Homo sapiens: one gene and its partners. The protein of the gene in region 1 purifies or fractionates together with the protein of each later gene. This does not show direct contact. Each region holds a gene or a part of one and is shown in the gene's direction. Other genes may lie near its edges.

The links.
Region 2: the proteins of SAMD3 (region 1) and ACACB purify together in Homo sapiens (affinity purification with mass spectrometry; one large-scale study listed by BioGRID and IntAct). This does not show direct contact.
Region 3: the proteins of SAMD3 (region 1) and SUGP2 purify together in Homo sapiens (affinity purification with mass spectrometry; one large-scale study listed by BioGRID and IntAct). This does not show direct contact.
Region 4: the proteins of SAMD3 (region 1) and MYO9A purify together in Homo sapiens (affinity purification with mass spectrometry; one large-scale study listed by BioGRID and IntAct). This does not show direct contact.

The regions. Positions count from the first base shown.
Region 1 is NC_000006.12:130,180,577-130,185,600, reverse strand, and holds part of SAMD3 (sterile alpha motif domain-containing protein 3), read left to right. Parts: intron 1-977; coding exon 978-1,163; intron 1,164-1,413; coding exon 1,414-1,498; intron 1,499-3,259; coding exon of another isoform or gene 3,260-3,295; exon of another isoform or gene 3,296-3,529; intron 3,530-5,024.
Region 2 is NC_000012.12:109,262,449-109,267,472, forward strand, and holds part of ACACB (acetyl-CoA carboxylase 2), read left to right. Parts: coding exon 1-21; intron 22-1,783; coding exon 1,784-1,938; intron 1,939-2,661; coding exon 2,662-2,832; intron 2,833-2,940; coding exon 2,941-3,077; intron 3,078-3,787; coding exon 3,788-3,914; 3' UTR 3,915-5,024. UniProt on the Homo sapiens protein: Mitochondrial enzyme that catalyzes the carboxylation of acetyl-CoA to malonyl-CoA and plays a central role in fatty acid metabolism.
Region 3 is NC_000019.10:19,005,132-19,010,155, reverse strand, and holds part of SUGP2 (SURP and G-patch domain-containing protein 2), read left to right. Parts: coding exon 1-301; intron 302-1,727; coding exon 1,728-1,839; intron 1,840-5,024. UniProt on the Homo sapiens protein: May play a role in mRNA splicing.
Region 4 is NC_000015.10:72,110,765-72,115,788, reverse strand, and holds part of MYO9A (unconventional myosin-IXa), read left to right. Parts: intron 1-1,245; exon of another isoform or gene 1,246-1,531; intron 1,532-5,024. UniProt on the Homo sapiens protein: Myosins are actin-based motor molecules with ATPase activity. Unconventional myosins serve in intracellular movements. Regulates Rho by stimulating it's GTPase activity in neurons.

The DNA.
Region 1 (5,024 bases):
AGTCCCAGCACTTTGGGAGGCCAAGGTGGGCAGATCACGAGGTCAGGAGATTGAGACCATCCTGGCCAACATGGTGAAACTCCATCTCTACTAAAATACAAAAAATTAGCCAGGTGTGGTGGCACATGCCTGTAGTCCCAGCTACTTGGGAGGCTGAGGCAGGGGAGTCACTTGAACCCAGGAGGCGGAGGTTGCAGTGAGCTGAGATCGTGCCACTGCACTCCAGCCTGGCGACAGAGTGAGACTCCATCTTAAAAAATAATAATAATAAAATAAAAAATAAAAAAGTGAATAGCTCAGTTAATTTTAGCAGCTTTATATGCTTGTACAACAAATAATCACTACCCATTTTATCCACCCTCATCCCCAGGCAACTCCTGATCTGCCTTCTGTAGTTATAGTTTTCTGTAGCCCTTCATAGAAATTTCATCTGGATAGAATCGGAATATCTGTTACTTATATTTAATTTGGAAACTAAGTTCACCTTATCAAAATAGGCAAAGACAAACTAAATTAGGTGGATCTTGTATTTAATTATAAACAACAGCAGAATAAATTAATTAGAAGAATTTTCTTAACAGGTGCTAAGACTTTATGGTAGGCCTCATTTGCTTTGCTGAATTGCAATGTATTTTCTTTTTGTTAAGTATATTGTCTAGTTTTGAGCTATGCATTACATTTTCTCTTTAAGAAAAATGAATTAGTATGCATTTCAACTTCAGGCTTTATTCTAAAGTCTATATTATTATGACTTTTTCTAAAGAATACATATTTATGTGTTGTGTGAATGGACAAAGACACTTAATGAGCCTTCAAACATTTGTGGATGGATGAATGGATGGAAGATGGCTTGATGACTTCCATATATTTGGGTCTCAGGAAAGTTGTTTATTTCATAAGTTCTCAGGATGTAGCAAATTAATAAACTGCATATATTTGGAATAGAATTTCATTCTTTGTGTGTTTTTATTTCACAGAAGAAATGTGAAACAAATTCTAGCAAGAAGCAAAGCATTACAGTGGACGAAGTCCTATGTTTTACCAGAGTTTCCCTATGATGTCAAATGCATGTTAGCAGAGCAGAAGTGCCCGGATCACAGCATGAGGATAAGGATCATTGAGTTTCTCCAGGCCGACATGACTAAGTATCTGGAAGGCTCACTGTGAGTGACAACAGGACAAGCTTGCTGCTTTGGGAAAGGGTCTGTTTCAGAATAGAGTAGAATTCCTGTGGAATCAACTCTCTTCAGATTGTGGATGATATATTGGTAATAGGTCCCAATTGCCCAATATTTAAATCTCTTTTTGTTATATAGAAAAATGTGAAGAAAAATGAGTGTAATTAGACTCATCTTAAAGGAAGGAATGTGGTTTGCTTGAAGTGAAACATATCCTCCTTGTTTTGGTGAACAGGTACCCCAGCACCCAGCAGTACAATGACGTGGTTAATGCCCTGCTGCAGGCCCACCCTTTCCTGGATGAGGATGGCTGTGGCTTCGTAAGTGACCACATGGCACCATCCTGTTAATTTCAGACTATCTTAAAATAATTGCCTTGTGTTGCCCAGTAATTTTATGCTTCACCCATCTTTTCTTGGTGTCTCTCTCTCTCTCTCTCATTCTGTCTATGTATCTAGGTCTATCTGTTTCTGTTTTTCTGACTCTTTGTCTCTTTAATCTCTCTCCAACTTTGTTTCTGTCTTTCACTTTCTGTTAGTCCATGCTTCTTTCTTGACTTTGCGCTCTCTCTCTCTCTGGCTCTCTCTCTTTCTCTCTCTGTCTCCTTGTCTTCCCTTTTTCATAACTTCTTGGTCTCTCTCTGCCCTGTGTTTCTTTGTCTTCTTTGTCTCTCTCTGTCATCATGTTGCTGTCCTGTCAAAACTGGAAGCTCAGTGCAACAGAGCTGATCAGGAGTTGCCTAGGGCTGAGGGTGGCCAAAATGGATAGTGATTATGGTTGCACAAGCATATAAAGTTGCTAAAATTGAGCTGTTCGCTTTAGAGTCTTAAGGGTTTTAAGGGTTAGGAAGGGTCTTTAGGAGATGTGACACATAGAAAGAGAAAGACATGGCTGCACCTGCTTCGGAGCTGTCATCAAGTGTTTCTTGCCTTCTCAGACCCAGTGGAGCTGTTGTCTGGCTTTGAGGTCTGGGCCTCCAGCCTTACCTGGCCCTGTCAGATCTCTGCTTTCTGTCCTGATAAAAACAGACCCTCAGGATGCTCTGGGGCAGCAGTTCTTTTTTTTTTTTTTCCTTTTTTTTTTTTTGAGACGGAGTCTCGCTCTCTCACTCAGGCTGGAGTATAGTGGCGCGATCTCAGCTCACTGCAACCTCCGCCTCCTGGGTTCAAGCAATTCTCTGGGGCAGCAGTTCTAAGCTCTGGTTGCACATTAGGATTCCTAGAGATTCAGATTGAATTAATTTGAGGATGGGATTATTCTAATGTACAACCACGGCTGAGAACCACTGCCGCTGACGTTTCAACACAAAGTTTGCTGTTTGAACCTGCCTGTCTCCTGGATTTCAAAGACCACTGTCTTCATTGCACAACAATGTGAATATAATCAACACTATTGAACTGTACCTAAGAATAGTTAATAAAAAACTGAGTGTTTATGATGCTGTAACTTTATGAGTTAAGGAACAATTACAAGGAACTGTAGCTATGTATACAAAAAGGTAGATGGTCTATTATTCCCTGTATCTCTATATGCCATATGCATACACATTGGTAGGCATATCTAAAGAAGATAGATGTCTTTTTGTGCTTTACTGTCTCAGATGTCTGTGAAAAGATATTTTTTGCTGTGCTTTCTTAAGGACATGGAATTTCAGCAATTATTTCCAAGAACAACAAAGGATAAATGCCAATTATCTATGAATATAAAGACATTTTAAGGCTCTGTTTCCTCCCTCCCTTCCTCCTTTCCTTCCATCCTTCTTTCCTTCCTTCCTTCCTTCCTCCCTCCCCTCCCTCCTTCTTTCTTCCCTCCTTCCTTTCTTCCTTCCTTATTTGTATTTACCCCTCCCTCCCTCTCTCCCTCCCTTCCTTCCTTCTTTCCTTCCTTCCTTTCTTCCTTCTTTTTTTGTATTTTCAAGAAAAGGTTCATTATATATGGAGAGAATCACAGAATTTTCTCAGTGGGAGAGGTAATTAAAGGTTTTTTTCACCACTCAGACTGAGGAAAGATGTTGTATACCATGTCTGGAAAAATGATAGTTATTGAAGCCAAGATTAGAATTCAGGTATTCTTGCTTCTAGGATGACATCCTTTCCAAAATATGCTGCTGCATATAAAGTGCACTACAGAAGAAACTGAATTTCCTCTAAAAAAACAAAACAAAGCGAAGGAAAAAAAACAAGGCAACAACAACAATACTACACAAACCTGGCATCCCAACATTGACAATCATGTCAATATGGCTGACAAAACTGATTCTCGGAATTTCTTCTACACTGGAGATACATCTACCAACTTAATGTCTAATCAGTGTTACTGTGTATAGAACTTGTGGTTTTTTTTTTTTTTTTTTTTTTTGAGACAGAGTCTTGCTCTGTCGCCCAGGCTGGAGTGCAGTGGCACGATCTCGACTCACTGCAAGCTCCGCCTCATGGGTTCACGCCATTCTCCTGCCTCAGCCTCCCGAGTAGCTGGGACTACAGGTGCCCCCCACCACGCCCAGGTAATTTGTTGTATTTTTAGTAGACATGGATTTTCACCATGTTAGCCAGGATAGAACTTGTGTTTTTTTTTTAAATTTACATTTACTGTTTGAATAAATTACATATTTACATAGCTCAAAATTCAAAAACTACAAAAGGGTATAAATAGAAAAGTTTCCCACCCGCCCTTGCTTCTGCAGCCACCTAATTTTCCTCCCCATAAGTAACCAATACTATTAGAGTCCCTCTAGAGAATCTTTGCATATACCTAAGCAAATCCATATTGATTCAATACCTTTTGACCTTTAGTTTGATGGTTATCAAAGTGAGACATGTACAAAGTAACAAATAATGCTTTCTTTGCTCTTGTGTCCATTTTATCCACATCTGTTCCCAGTGACATTCACTAAGGACCGTTAACTGATAAAGAGATGTGTGCAAAATTGCTTAGCAGATTAGGGCTCAGATTTGCACTCATAGAGTAGAAGGAGAAACTCTGGTGCCTGGATGGATGTTTACCCAAATTCTCCCTGCGAGTGTGTGTGAGGTTGTGTTTCTAATGTTACAGTGGAAAATGTACAAAATTTCAGAGAACATTAATGGGAGGCAGGGGTGGAGAAAGAAAAAGGGTGCACAAACTTGGTTATTTTTAGGGCTAAGTTTATTTTTAACTCTTAATTTTGAAAAATTTGGGGCCGGGTACGGTGGCTCATGCCTATAATCCCAGCACTTTGGGAGGCCAAGGCGGGCAGATCACCTGAGGTCAGGAGTTTGAGACCAGCCTGGCCAACATGGTGAAACTCTCTCTCTACTAAAAATACAAAAATTAGCCGGGCATGGTGGTGGGCACCTTTAATCCCAGCTACTCAGGAGGCTGAGGCAGGAGAATCGCTTGAACCGGGAGGCCGAGGTTGCAGTGAGCTGAGATCACGCCATTGCACTCCAGCCCAGGTAACAAGAGCGGAACTCCGTCTCAAAAGAAAAAAGAAAGAAAGAAAAAGAAAAAAGAAAAGAAAAGTTTCAAATCTGAACAAAAGTTGAAAGAATGCTACATTGATATGCATATACTCCTAACAACATGGATTTTCTCAACCTCTTGACTGTTTACCTTTGGGGCTGGATAATTCTTTCTGCTGGGGACTGTCTAGTACATTGAAGTATATTTAGTAGCATCCCTGGCACCCACTAGGTGTGAGTAGCACTCTGTCCACCCAGTTGTAACAACCAGACATGTCCCCAAACATCACTAAAGTAAGCACACTACAGAATAAAGCAAAATTTCTCTTAAAAAACAAAACAAAGCAACAACAACAACAAAACCAAACAAGGGGAGGGAGAGGAGCAACATCACGTCACTGGCTGA
Region 2 (5,024 bases), on another chromosome or scaffold:
AGAAGCTCATGGAACAGCTAGGTAAGGGGGTCCCAAAGGCTTCACCTCTCAGAGGTCAAGAGAGGCCCAGCTGGCCCACTGCTGGGGGTTTCTAGGATGTTAAAAATAAAATGAAAAAATACCAAAATACAGCTATAATAACTGTGAGATTTTTAAAGATATTCACATTTGTCTGTTTGTTTTGTTTTGTTTTTTTGAGGTCTGGCTCTATTGCCTAGGCTGGAGTGCAGGGTGCAATCTCAGCTCACTGCAACCTCTGCCTCCCAGGCATAAGCCATCCTCCCATCTCAGCCTGAGTAGCTGGGACTACAAGTACGCAACACCATGCCTAGCTAATTTTTGTATTTTTGTAGATGTGGGGTTTCGCCATGTTGCCCAGGCTGTTCTCAAACTCCTGGGCTCAAGCAATCCACCTACCTCAGCCTCCCAAAATGCTGGGGTTACAGGCATGAGCTACCATGATTGGAGGACATTCACATTTCTAAATCAACCTTTTTAACATTATATATATATATATATATATATATATATATATTGCCATCGTGAATTTATTTCTCAGCATACACAAAAGATAGCAATTGAAGTATTTGGGGCTGATGGGGATTATCAGAATTTTGGTGGCAAAATGTTCCTTTAGAATTCCCAATCAGAGATAAGATATTTTACTAATTTTGTTTGAATGACAGCTTTGTTTTACTTGTCATCTTTAGATGTAATTATCTTTATTTATTTATTTGTTTATTTTTGAGACAGAGTCTTGCTCTGTTGCCCAGGCTGGGGTGCAGTGGCGCAATCTCAGCTCACTGCAACCTCTGCCTCCCAGGTTCAAGCGATTCTCATGCCTCAGCCTCTCAAGTAGCAGGAATTACAGGTGTGTGCCACCACACCTGGCTAATTTTTGTGTTTTTAGTAGAGACAGGGTTTCACCATGTTGGCCAGGCTGGTCTTGAACTCCTGGCCTCAAGTGATTTGCCTGCGTCAGCCTCCCAAAGTGCTGGGATTACAGGCGTGAGCCACTAAGTCTGGCCACAAGATGATATTTAAATATCCATTTTAAGTGTCAGTGTCTTTATAACTGTGCTATTCACAAGATTTTTTACAGTGTGTGCGTGTAATTTCTTTGGCTGGTATCAGGGTAATGCTGATCTCATAGAATGAGTTGAAGTGTTCGCTCCTATTTTCTGAGTTTTTGCAGAATTGGCATTATTTCTTTATGTTTTTGATAGAGGTTTTTACCTATAAATTCAACTTCTTTGTTATATATAGGACTATTTGTGTTATCTGTTTCCTCCTAGGTGAGCTTTGGTGGTTTGTGTGTTTCAAGGAATTTGTCTATTTCATCTTAAGTTGTCAATTTGGCATAGAGTTGCTTATAATATTCCCTTATCATATTTTACAATGTGTACTAAAAATCATTGATATAGTATCCTACAAGCACGATGGGTCTGATGGAAGGGGAAAATGTAGAGTTGCATGTTGAATGCTGTCTTGCAATTGTGAGTGCATTTCTGAGACTGTACTAGCTATTTGATCTGAGACAAAGGGGGCCATCAAGATGGGCCTGGGGTGGGGGCCAGGCCAGTGGACTCTGGGGGACCTAGGGGGCTGAGGGCAGCCTGTGTAGCAGCAGGGGTAATATCAGAGTTAAAGCTCAGACCTCTCACAAGGCAAGGCCTGTCCTGCAAATCCTGATTTGTGCCTTCTTCAAAAAAAAAAAAAAATCTCCACCCCATCACATATGACCAGCTTCCATGGCTTGACTGGCCTTTCTGCTCACCTGCAGGGGAACCTGATCTCTCCGACAAGGACCGAAAGGACCTGGAGGGCCGGCTAAAGGCTCGCGAGGACCTGCTGCTCCCCATCTACCACCAGGTGGCGGTGCAGTTCGCCGACTTCCATGACACACCCGGCCGGATGCTGGAGAAGGGCGTCATATCTGTGAGAGCCACAGCTGCCGTGTAGGGTGCAAAGAGCCCACCCTGTTTTCCAAAACATGGAGGACATTTGGGCTCGGGGGCGGGGAGGGCGGTGGTGGTTGGGATGGGTCAAATGCTGCAGGAGGTGGGAGTCACCTGGGAACTTTAAAATAATCCCGATCCCCAGGTGGCACTGCAGACCAGTGAAATCCAAACACCTGGATGGAAGCCAGGCGGTCGTATTTTTTAAAGATCCCCAAGAGATTCTAATAAGCAGCAAAGTTCAGGGACCACTAGTCTGATGGCTCGGTCAGTTTGGACCTGGACCAGGGGTAGAAACCGTTGTTCCTGTCCAGCATTCACCCACCCCTCACCATTGCAAGGACTCCCACAGTCACCTCCTACCCATGTCCAGTGCTCATTGGTTCTCTTGCTGCATTGTTCTCCCTCCCAGCTGACTCATGCCTCACACGAGCCTGTGTTTGTGTCGGTTGAGGTAGAAGTGGGTGCCAGGTTTTTATGGGGGACATTTTTTCAACTATGGCCAGTCTGGAGTCCTGGTGACGTCCTGCCTCTGAGCAGGTGCCTTCTCCTCCCTGAGCCTCAGCTTACTTGCCTGGGATGATCTGGGAATGATCTCAGAGCCTGGGCCCAGCCCCGGGCAGCCACTGTCATGGGTGTGGTCAGAGCCAGTGTCCCGTCTCCTCCTTCCCTTTCCGGGGATTCAAGCCTGGCTCGTCCACAGGACATCCTGGAGTGGAAGACCGCACGCACCTTCCTGTATTGGCGTCTGCGCCGCCTCCTCCTGGAGGACCAGGTCAAGCAGGAGATCCTGCAGGCCAGCGGGGAGCTGAGTCACGTGCATATCCAGTCCATGCTGCGTCGCTGGTTCGTGGAGACGGAGGGGGCTGTCAAGGTGGGCCTGGGGTGAGAACGAGGCCGGTGAGCACAGGGGGTGCTGGGGGCTGAGACAGCTGGCCCACAGCTGGGTCCCTCTCTGAGGCATCCTCTGCCCCCTCCCCAGGCCTACTTGTGGGACAACAACCAGGTGGTTGTGCAGTGGCTGGAACAGCACTGGCAGGCAGGGGATGGCCCGCGCTCCACCATCCGTGAGAACATCACGTACCTGAAGCACGACTCTGTCCTCAAGACCATCCGAGGGTGAGTGGCCACCGCACCTGCTTCCCAGCCTCCTGGCAAGGACCCGAGCCTGGATTGACCCCTAGCTACCCGACTCCTATGCAGCCACTTGAACCCGCCACCCTGTGCAGTCTGGGGTTGTCCCCGCCCCCTCCCCGCTCCCCAGCAAAGAGACCACACTCCCTAATGTCGGGTCTCCCAGCACAGTGGCTGGGGTGGGACAGAGAGCCTAGAGGTACTCTGAAGGCCGTGTGAGATGCTTCCAACTCATGAACCTTGCTGGAATATGGACTTGTCCAAAGTCACAGCTGGAGCAGGGTTGGTCACAGAACCCACATTTGGAACCGCTAGCCTTCAGGCTGCTGTCTTCCACGCCAGTGTTGACCTTTCCAGAGGGTCCCCTCCCCCAATTGCCATGGGGTCACCCCGTGAAGGAGGGAGTCGAGCACAGGGGACCCCATTTTGGGGATGAAGCTGAGACTCAAGGCAGTGTCTTGTCTCAGGTCATGTCACAAAGCAGTGACCAGTAGGGACGGTGGTGCCTCAAGGCATTCTGAACTTCAGGTCACAGCCCCTCCTGCTGCACAGGACCATCACCCCCATGGGGACCACAGCAGGGACTCGGGAGCTCTGGGTTCTGGGGTGTGGCCCCACACAAGGACTCTGCCACCCTTGGGGCCACTGAAAAAGTGGCTGGAGTGATCCCAGCCCTCCTCTCACCTCCCCCACAGCCTGGTTGAAGAAAACCCCGAGGTGGCCGTGGACTGTGTGATATACCTGAGCCAGCACATCAGCCCAGCTGAGCGGGCGCAGGTCGTTCACCTGCTGTCTACCATGGACAGCCCGGCCTCCACCTGACCGTGGCCCGCCCAGCCACTCCCGGGACCACGGCAAAAGGAACCACCCAGACCCACCACCCGTACACCCTCAGCAGACCCTGAAGACTTGCTTTTAAACAAAGAAAATCCTGGGCACTTCTGCAGGGCTGCTGGTTCCGAGCTGACACCCGTCTTAACAAAAGGCCCAGGAGTGCCTCTTCCAAACAAAAACAGCCTCCTCTCCATAGCTGGGAAGTTTATTTTGTTTTGTCTCTGAAGACAGCAGTTTTATTGCATCACTAAATCTAATCAAGCTAAAACATCCCTGTTTCCTTTTGCAAAACAGTGCCTGGCATGTGGGATCCAGGCGTTCTTTAGGATCCTTGGATACCACATCGTGAAATCTTTTATTTTTTTACTCTGAGACCAGCACCAGATGTAAGTAAGCATCTCATATATTTCAGCCAAATAAATGGGCCAAGGGAAAAAAATATATATATATAGACAGGACTAGAGAAAACCTATTTTTGTAATGATGTTTCTTTGGATACTGTCTAGTCACCCAGAAAAATGTATGGATGAATTTTTTTTTTTTTTTTTGAGACAAAGTCTCACTGTGTCATGCAGGCTGGAGTGCAGTGGCATGATCTCACTGCAACCTCCATCTCCTGTCTCAGCCTCCTAGATAACTGGGATTACAGGTGCCCACCACCATGCCCGGCTAATTTTTGTATTTTTGGTAGAGACAGAGTTTCACCAGGTTGGTCAGGCTGGTCTCAAACTCTTGACTTCAGGTAATCCACCCACCTTGGCCTCCCAAAGTGCTGGGATTACAGGCATGAGCCACCATCTTCAGCCAGATGATTTTTTTATTGAGAGAGTGAAATGCTATTTTGTTCCCCAAATGGCGCTAGTGAATCACTAGGAGGGTCCCACTGATAGGCCATGTTTAGCACTGGTTGCCAGGGATTCTCTTTTTGAGAGAGGGAAAGCAAAATGAATGGAAGTACCCAGCTGGAGGTTTCAGGGCTTCTGGAGGATGCTCTCGCATAGCTCGAGGTCCTCTGCCCACCTCTTCTCTCCAAGGAAAATGAGGACTGCCCCTTCCCCCTGCAGGATTGGCCCCCAGCCTGCGCATGCACCCTCCTCT
Region 3 (5,024 bases), on another chromosome or scaffold:
CGGGGGCTCCTCCGTGCTCAAGGGCTCCGGGGCTGGAAGGCGAGGAGAGCGACCACCGGGACCCAGACCCTCCTATCCTCAGGCACCAGGCTGAAACACCACGGCCGGCAGGCTCCAGGCCTCTCACAGGCAAAACCATCCCTGCCAGACAGAAATGATGCTGCCAAGGACTGCCCGCCAGACCCAGTTGGACCTTCTCCTCAGGACCCCAGCTTAGAAGCCTCAGGCCCATCCCCCAAGCCAGCAGGAGTGGACATCTCTGAAGCACCTCAGACCTCTTCTCCCTGCCCATCTGCTGACAGTGGGTGCTCACTCCTGTCCCCCTCCTCTGGGCCCCAGTCCCTACTCTCCCATCTCCAGGGTCTCTTTAGAATTGGGGGGGCCTGCAATCTAGGCAAGGCAGTGGATAAAAGCTCTAGGGACCTGGCCAGGACAAGTGTACATGTTGGCGCTTTCTCTCTTGCTTTCTTGAGAGAGCTGCATGCGAGTCCTGCAGCTCCCTCCTCCTCTTCTGAGAGCGGAGCTGGTATGAGGTGCTGCCCCATGCCTTCGTGCTCCCCGACAGGGTCCTGCTGCTGGGGCCGTGGGCGGTGCATTGCCTGAACTTGGGATCCCATGTCCTGCTATATCCTGGCCTCCCTTGATAGTCTTCGGGACTGCCTTGTTCTCATTGCGCCTCCTCATCCCCAGGGTCTCCACAGTTCCTGTTCTTGGGGTTCGCTGACCTGCACTGCTTCCTCCGAATCGACTAACTTCACCCCTTCTGTTTCTTCTGTCACCTTAGCTGTTTCTTTCTCTCTGTACCACAGGCCTGCTCTCTGGCCAGTGCTTCCTAAGCACTAAGTGGGAAGGAGAGAGCAAAAAAGTGTCCACAACTGCTGCATTATTTAGGTGTTGCTGTGTCGTGAGCCGTTCCAAACTGTGGCTTAAAACAGGAGGCATCAGCTGGGCGTGGTGGCTCACACTTGTAATCCCAGCACTTTGGGAGGCCAAGGCGGGTGGATTGCCTGAGCTCAGGAGTTCGCAACCAGCCTGGGCAACATGGTGAAACCCGATCTCTACTAAAAATACAAAAAATTAGCTGGGCGTGGTGGCACATGCCTGTAGTCCCAGCTACTCGGGAGGCTGAGCTAGGAGAATCGCTTGAACCCGGGAGGCGGAGGTTGCATTGAGCCAAGATCTCACCACTGCACTCCAGCCTGGGCGACAGAGCAAGACTCCATCTCAAAAAAAAACCAAACAAACCAACCAGGAGGCGTCCGGTATTGTGAATTTGCCAGTGGCTGGGTCATCTGCTGAGCTAGCCCACACATGTCTGCGGTCAGTGGCAGGTGTCCAGGCTGTCAGCTGAGATGATGGTGTGGCTGGGCCACATGCCTGTCATCCCCCCAGCAGCCAGCCCATGTTTGTTCACCTGGCAATTGGGGTTGGGGCTTCAGGAGAGACAGTGGAAGTACTCAAGTCCTCCAAGGCCCAGGCTTGGAACTGGCAATGGGCTTTTCCACCACATTCTATAGCTGATGTGAGTCCCAGGACCAGCCCTGATTCAAGGTGGGGATACACAGAGTTCACTTCTTGGTGACAAAGGGTCCACATGTGACGAAGGGCAAGGCTACAGGGAGGGGACATGCAGGCCATCTTTATAATCAGCCTCCACAACCCTGCAGTGTTTACACGGGGAGCAGCAGCTCAGGAGTCATGCCTGACAGGTGCTTTATGTTTTGTAGTTGACATGAAGACAATGGAGACTGCAGAGAAACTGGCTAGATTTGTTGCTCAGGTGGGACCAGAGATCGAACAATTCAGCATAGAAAACAGCACCGATAACCCTGACCTGTGGTACGTACCCCCCCGGGTCTCATCACACCTTTTTCTTTCTCAGAGAGACAAAGTCTAAGGATGTTGCTTAGGCTGGATTTGAATTCCTGGGCTCAAGTGATCCTCCTGTTTCAGCCTCCAGAGTAGCTGGGACCACAGGTGTGCTCCACTGCAACTGGCCATTACACCCTTTAGATTTGAGTGTGTTCACGCCACAAGCATGTCCTGAGCCAGCCCACAGCCTGGCCAATGCATTCCTACTATGGGGGTTATACCAGGAGTAAGTCATGACTTCACTTCAGCTGAGCCAGGGGCCTAAGGGAGAAAGATCTGTTCTAATCACCCGAGTTCAGGAGTTCGAGACCAGCCTGGCCACCATGCTAAAACCCCATCTCTACAAAAATACAAAAATTAGCCGGGCATGGTGGCAAGCACCTGTAATCCCAGCTGCTTGGGAGGCTGAGGCATGAGAATCGCTTAAACCCGGGAGGCGGAGGTTTCAGTGAGCTGAGATTGAGCCACTGCATTCCAGCCTGGGCAACAGAGCGAGACTTCATCTCCAAAAAAAAAAAAAAAAAAAAAGGCTAGGTGCAATGGCTCATGCTTGTAATCCCCGCACTTTGGGAGGCTGAGGCGGGTGGATCATGAGGTCAGGCATTTGAGACCAGCCTTGCCAACATAGTGAAACCCCGTCTCTATACTAAAAATAAAAAAAATTAGCCGGGTGTAGTGGCAGGTGCCTGTAATCCCAGCTACTCGGGGGAGGCTGAGGCAGGAGAATTGCTTGAACCTGGGAGGCGGAGGTTGCAGTGAGCCGAGATCGCGCCATTGCACTCCAGCCTGGGCAACAAGAGTGAAACTCCATCTCAAAAAAAAAAAATCTGTTCTAGGGGACCTGCCTTCATCTCGGGCATCAGGAAAAACCTCCCCAGAGGGACATTTAATCTGCATCCAAAGGCTAAATAGGAGTTGGCCAGGGGAGGGGAGAGAGGTGAGGATTTGCTGCTCACTGCATGATAGTAGTGATAGTCAGCCCTTGCCCAGGTCTGACAGCAGGCACTTCTACACAGGGATAAGGTGGCGTGCTCATGCTGGGAGCAGGTACCTTTGCCCTCTCCATTCCTTGGATAGGTGGAGCTCAGCTCAAAAGCACACAGCCCATAGGCAAGAAAACCTGGGTGAGGAGCCAGCACTGCCCCTGGGGTTTTTCCCCGGGGTGACATGAGATGTCCCCTCCAGAGAAAGGCTGCCGGTAGGAGGCACCCATCTTCCCATTACTGAGCCAGAACCCTACTGAGGGGGCTCTCAACTCCTCGTGCTGGTCCTAGCTTGTTGGACAGTCATGCCTTCATCCAGTTAAAATTACAGTTGAAAACGTGCATTTCTCAGAGCATTTATGGGATTCAGTGGTGACAGAACATACTCTTTCAACTTGCTTGGGACCTGATTGCACAAGCCAAGCCCTACTCCCCTCCGCAGCCTTGGCTTATGACTGGGTCCTGCACTAAGGTACCACCTGCCTTGTGGGGCACTGACCACCTACAGACGGGAAGCCTGACCAGGCTTACAGTCAGGTTTTGCCTTTTACAGGCAGTAGTGGCCTTGGGGAGCTGCTGGGCCCTGTAGACCTCGGGGTCGGACCTGTCCACTGTGTATGTGGGATTTCCTCTGGCAGGGTTGGATAAGGAGGACAGCTCAGTGCAGGGCAGCTGGGGGCATCCCATGAGTCCTTTTTTCTTTTTCACTTTCTTTTTTTTCAATGAAAAGTACAGTTTAAAGGAGAATTTTGCATTAGCCTGGGTACTTGGGCTGTAGTACTTGTTGGGTTTTGGGTGATTCCTCCCCATCTGTGACAGCCTTTTCTGAGCAGTGTCCTTCAGAGTACTCTGTCCTGTCCTTCCCTGGAAGGAGAGCCCTGGATCCTGACCACAATACTGGGCAAGGTGTTGGACGCTATCCAGCCATGCTTGTAAATGGGCCAAGATGACTTTGTGTTTCTTTTGCCTTTAGAAAAAATTTAATTCTAATGTGCTCAAGCTTATTGAGTTAATTCATTTTGTGGGTGTGGTTATGTTATAAAGTTGTCATACAATCCGTTTTATTTATTTATTTATTTTTGAGACGGAATTTCACTCTGTCGCCCAAGCTGGAGTGCAGTGGTGTGATCTCAGCTCACTGCAACCTCCGCCTCTCGGGTTCAAGCGATTCTCCTGCCTCAGATTCCCAAGTAGCTGGGATTACAGGTGTCACCCAGCTAATTTTTGTATTTTTAGTAGAGACGGGGTTTCACCATGTTGGCCAGGCTAGTCTTGGATTCCTGACCTCAGGTGATCTGCCTGCCTCAGCCTCCCAAAATGTGCTGGGAGGCATGAGCCACCATGCCCGGCCCAGATTCATTTGTTTCTGCTGATATTTAGTTGTATGTGTGTGTGGTGTGTGTGTGTGGTGTGTGTGTGTGTGTGTGTGTGTGTGTGTGTGTGTGTGTGTGTGTGTTTGTTAGCCTGGTATAGTGGCATTTGCCTGTGGTCCTAACTACTTGGGTGGCTGATGTAGGAAGATTTCTTGAGCCCAGGAGTTTGAGGCTGCAGTGAGCTGTGATCACACCACTGCACTCTAGCCTGGACGACAGAGTGAGACCCCATCTCTAAAAATGTGTAATAATAATTATAAAGCCGTCCAGCTTTTCCAATACCATTCTTTGAAAGACCCACCCCTTTTTTGTAGTAGTTTGAGAGGTTACCTTAATCAAATGCTGGGTTTCTGGTCTTTCTATTCTGTTCCTTTGGTCTGCCTTATGGACTACTATGCTGTTTAACTCTAGAGGCTTTGGGGCATTTTATAGTGCTTGGTGGGGCTGGAACCCCTTATGAGTCTTGTTCAGAGTTTTCCCAGATACTCTTACATATTATTTTTCTTTATGAACTTTAGAACCATCTTGCCCTGATTCAGAATGGGATTTTATTGGGATATATTAATATGCTAACTGGGGGGACTTGGCACATTTATGAGGTTGAGTTGCCTTACGAGGGCCATTTTTCCTTTGGTCCAAGTGGACTTTGGTGCTTTCGGGAGTGTTTCAAGTTTCTCATACCAGCCACAGCTTCATAGCTGTGGTTACAAGTCGAGGTGGCCACCAGACCCCTGAGGCACAGAGAGGCCTCATCTCCACGCCCATGTAGGTGGACTGCAGGCCCCAGAGCGGGAAG
Region 4 (5,024 bases), on another chromosome or scaffold:
CTACAGAAAGGATGTAACTAAATTTCTCATTGAACCTCTGAGCTTCCACAGTGTGACTAGCTGTGATGATGATTATAATATTTATTAAATTATTGAAGGATTTTAAAGCAGGGGACTGGAATGATCAGATTTGCATTTTAAAAAAGTCATTCTGGCTGCAGTGAATTGAAGAGTAGAATAAGACTAAAGGCCAGGAATATTAGGGTTATCCAGGCAAATGGTGAGACTGGATCTGAACTTGGATATTCGGAGTTGAGTTGGTGATTTTATTGTATTTGGGGTTGGGGAGAAGTTGCATACAGGATAAAATCTAGGTTTCTGGCTTGTGCCTTTCACTGAGGTGGGGATTCCCATGAAGGAGTGGGATTTTGTTTTTATTTTGTCAAGGAGGAAGGATAGAGGGGTTAATTTGTGACATGTTCAGTTTAGGTGACTGTAGTTCTGTCAGATGTAGATGACCATTAGGCATTTGGATTTGTGGCTGAAGCTCAGTATCAGGTTCTGGGTTGATAGCAGTAGATTTTGGAGGCAAAATCATACAGAAGGGAGGAGAAAAGGTTTTAGGATGGAAACCCAACATTTAAATTACAGGTAGAGTTGAATATTTAAATTAGTAAATTACATGATTAAGTGCCTTTAAAAAACTTATTCTAGTTTAAGCATTAACAGTGAGATTCACTATCTAATATATGAATTTTTAACAGTTGTTTTCCCTTAGTTATTTTAGTAGTATATAGTTCCTGAGGGAAATTGGGTAAACTTAGATTTTTTTTAACAAGTACCTCAATAGAAGTTAGCGATATAAACTCCATCTTTCCTAATCATTTGGATTATACTATGTGGAAGTTTGTTCAGTCTTTAATAGCAGAGAAATGTAGGAGGTTTGAAAATATGATTTGCCAAGAATATTAAGGTTTTTAGTTGGAGTGATTTTTGGTTATGTTAACTCAGTTTGAAATAAATATTAGTCAAAGACTTTTCAGACATTTTAAAAACCACAATATTGACTTAATGTATTGATTCCTAAGTCTAGAACTGCTGTCTAGAGTGCTTGCCTTTGCTCTAGACCCCTGTAAAAGCACTGCCTAATGGATATCACCACTTTGATTCACATTTCACAAACACTTCAATCCAAACATTTAGGAAACAAAACTCTTCCTGCCTCTTTTCCCCCCACAAAAACAGTGGAGAGAGAGCCGGAGACAGAAACTGCAACAAAATTTTTTCTTCCCCCCGATTTCCTACCTTGATTAATGGCACCACTCTTTCCTCATGAAACCTTCAGGAACCTGGGAATTGCCCTCCGCTTCACTCTGTACTTCACTGCCAACATCCAGTCTGTCACTGCCTTGTACATTTTCCCTCATGATATTTCAGGTCATTCCTTATTACTTTTTGTTGCCTCTATCTTATTTTAACTGAAAATATCTGTTTGTTGGGCTTCTGTAATGCTGAGTGGTCTTCTTGCCTTCTGTCTTCTGCCTCTTGTCATGCCCTCCTGTTCATTCTCTTGACTGCTGTTGGAGTAAGTATTCTAAAATGCTCTTTTAGTCAGGCTCTTTCACTTGGAGGGAAGAGACTCAAGTTACCTTAAGTAATGAAGTGCTTATTGAAAGGAACCATACACAAGGGAACCCAGGAAAAGTTAACTTGCTCTCAAGAAGAAAAAGAACCTAATAAAACTTGCTCTCAAGAAGAACAAGAACCTAATAAAGCTGGAGACCCCACTCCAGTGCTCCATTGTTAGCTTGTCCTAGATACCGTTTCTTTCTTCAGTTTTTTTCCCCCTATGTCATAGCTTCCATTTATTACTAATTTCTGCTCCTTATAACTACTATGTGACCCCCATGCCAACATCTTGCCTCCTGGCTGCAATTGTTTTAAAACGTTTTAAAAGAGGTTAGCTCCTGTTGCTAACCTCTTCCTTTTCCCTAGGATTTTCTGGTTTGAATTCCAGATTTGGCTCAGCTCTTTTTCTCATTGATTGCTAACAAGTCTGTGTACTTAGGTTATGTCACCACTCTTGGCCATTTATTGTTGGCTGTGTGTTTGTATGTATATATGGGTATCAGGAAAGATCTTAATGGTGGAAAGTATGGGACAGTGTGCAGGCTAATTTACCGCAAAATGGGGTTGTGAGCATGGCCCACACCATAATTTTGACATGTATAGTACAGATAAAAATCAAATCATGTCCTTTCCTATTGAATAATCTTCAAAAAAGCTGTCTCATTGCTTTCAGGATAGAGTTTAAACTGTAGCATGGCATGTGTATGAGATCATTCATGATCTAACTCTTAATTCTCTAGCTTTTCTTCACTTGCTGTCTTCCTTACATACTTTAATCCACTCTTACTGACTTTAGGCTTCCTCTCAGGTAATGTGCTTTCTCTCTCGTCTTTTACATTTGATGTTCTATTTCCCTGATTTCCACTTTCCCCTTTCTTTGCTTGGCTAATTTCTGTCTGACCTTTAGGATTCAGTTCAGGTGTATATTCTTCAGGAAGATTTCCTTTACCTCTTTTCAGATTAAGTTAGGTACCATTCTTATGTGCTCCTGTAGCACATAGTAATTACTTCTATCATAGTCCTCTAATGAAATAGCTTAATTACTTGTCTGTTTTCTTCACTAGGGTTTGACTACTTTGGTAAGAGGGATGATATCAGTGCTTTTTAGTAAAACAAGTTTTTAGATTGAGCATTTTAAAAAATATAAGTTCAGAAAAAATAGGGTCTCACTGTGTTGCCCAGGCTGGTCTTAAACTCCTGGACTAGAGCCATCCTCCTGCCTCAGCCTTTGAAAGTGCTAGGATTACAGGCTGAGCCACTGTGCCCAGCCTAAAAATATAAGACTTTATAAATTATAAAATATACAAAAAGTACACAGCTGGTAAATATATAGCTCAGTGAATTTTCACTAAGAACATACCAGTGTAACTAACATCTACATCAAGATATAGAATATCACTAGAACTCTACAAGCTGCCTCATGCCTTCTTCTAGTCACTAATCCAGCTCATAGAGGATTTAATTTACATGGGAAACCCTTTAACATATAGGTTTCTGTACCTATTTTGTGTGTATCTTTAGACATGCAAGGAGTGTAGGTATTGGAATTTTGATCCTGTAGAAAGAACATACCTAATTTATGTTATAGAAACAATTATGGCATAGTTTCATACAATAGACAAGTTCAAAATAACATAATACTACTAAGGTTTATTTGTGAGATGTTATATTTAGGTAGGTGTTTTTGTTTTATACATTTAATATGATTTTAGAGTGGCAGAAAATAATATGATAGAACAAAGTATATTTGCTGAAAATGGCCTATGAATTATGAGTGGTAAATATGCTTGGGATAGGTATAGTAAACATGTAAAGCACTTTCCAAATAGTGTTAGGCCTCTGGGTTTTAATGTGAATTATGTTGCTGGCGTATTTTGGCAGTGGGGTCATCCAGCGGGCAACTGAAGTGTAATTTTACATGTACAGTGAGGAATGGACTAGCTGTCCTGTCATAGACAGCTGGCTTGCTAAAAATTGTGTGTGTTTTTTTTATTTATTTATTTTTTTTTACAATTAGCAATAATTTTGGAGCATACTTTTTCTCAGTTTTGATTTTTCTTAAACTGTAAGATTGTGTAGCTCTTTGAATATATAACTGTATTCTTTTAAATATTCTTTTTCCTTAGATAGGCTTTTATATCTGTGAATCTTAAATCCATTAAGTGGAGAGAATATGGATTCTCAAACCTAGATTTCTAACAGACCTGGATTCAAGTTCTAGCCTTATAACTTTGGAACTGTCATTTATGGGCAAGTCAGTTAACGTTTGAGAGCTTGTCAGAATTTTCATCTCTCAATTGGGGATAATTGGGAGGCAGAGGTGGAGGTAGGAGGATCAGTTGAGCCTAGGAGTTTGAGACCAGCCTGGGCAACATAGGAGACCTTGTCTCTACAAAAATGACAAAATTATTATTAAATAGCTGAGTGTGGTGGCATTCACCTATGGTCCTAGCTACTTGGGAGGCTGAGGTGGGAGGATCACTTGAACCTGGGAGGTCGAGGCTGCAGTGATCTGTAATCATGCCATTGTACTCCAGGCTGGGCAACAGAGTGAGACCCTGCCTCAAAAAAAAAAAAAAAATTGGGGGTAATATTTGCCTCATAAGACTATCATTGGAGTTAAAAAAATTTTTATGTAAAGCACCAAGCATATAGTAGGTACTCAGTAAGTCTTCCTTTTCCCTCTTGAATACGTCTATTTCCTGTTTTATTTATTAATTTTTTTTTTTTTTTAAGACAATCTCACTCTGTCACCCAGGCTGGAGTGCAGTGGCGCAATCTCGGCTCACTGCAACCTCTGCCTCCTGGGTTCAAGTGATTCTCGTGCCTCAGCCTCCCGAGTAGCTGGGACTACAGGTGCACGCCACCATGCCCGGCTAATTTTGTATTTTTAGTAGAGACAGGATTTCACCATATTGACCAAGCTGGTCTTGAACTCCTGACCTCAAGCGATCTGCCTGCCTTGGCCTCCCAAAATGCTGGGATTATAGGTGTGAGCCACTGTGCGCAGCCTATTTCTTGTTATGTTTAAATGTGAAATCAATAATTTTTTTTTTTTTTTGAGATGGAGTCTCGCTCTGTTGCCCAGGCTGGAGTGCAGGGGTGCAATCTCGGCTCACTGCAAGCTCTGCCTCCCAGGTTCACGCCATTCTCCTGCCTCAGCCTCCCGAGTAGCTGGGAATACAGGCACCTGCCACCACTCCCGGCTAATTTTTTGTATTTTTAGTAGAGACAGGGCTTCACCATGTTAGTCAGGATGGTCTCGATCTCCTGACCTTGTGATCCGCCCGCTTCGGCCTCCCAAAGTGCTGGGATTACAGGCGTGAGCCACCATGCCCGGCCGAAATCAAGAATTTTAAGAATTTCACTGTGTGGCTTTTAGAATAAATGGCTAATCAAAGTTTGTTGCTAAAAGAAGCAGATATTAGGGCAGTCTGTCTACTAGTTGTCTTTCA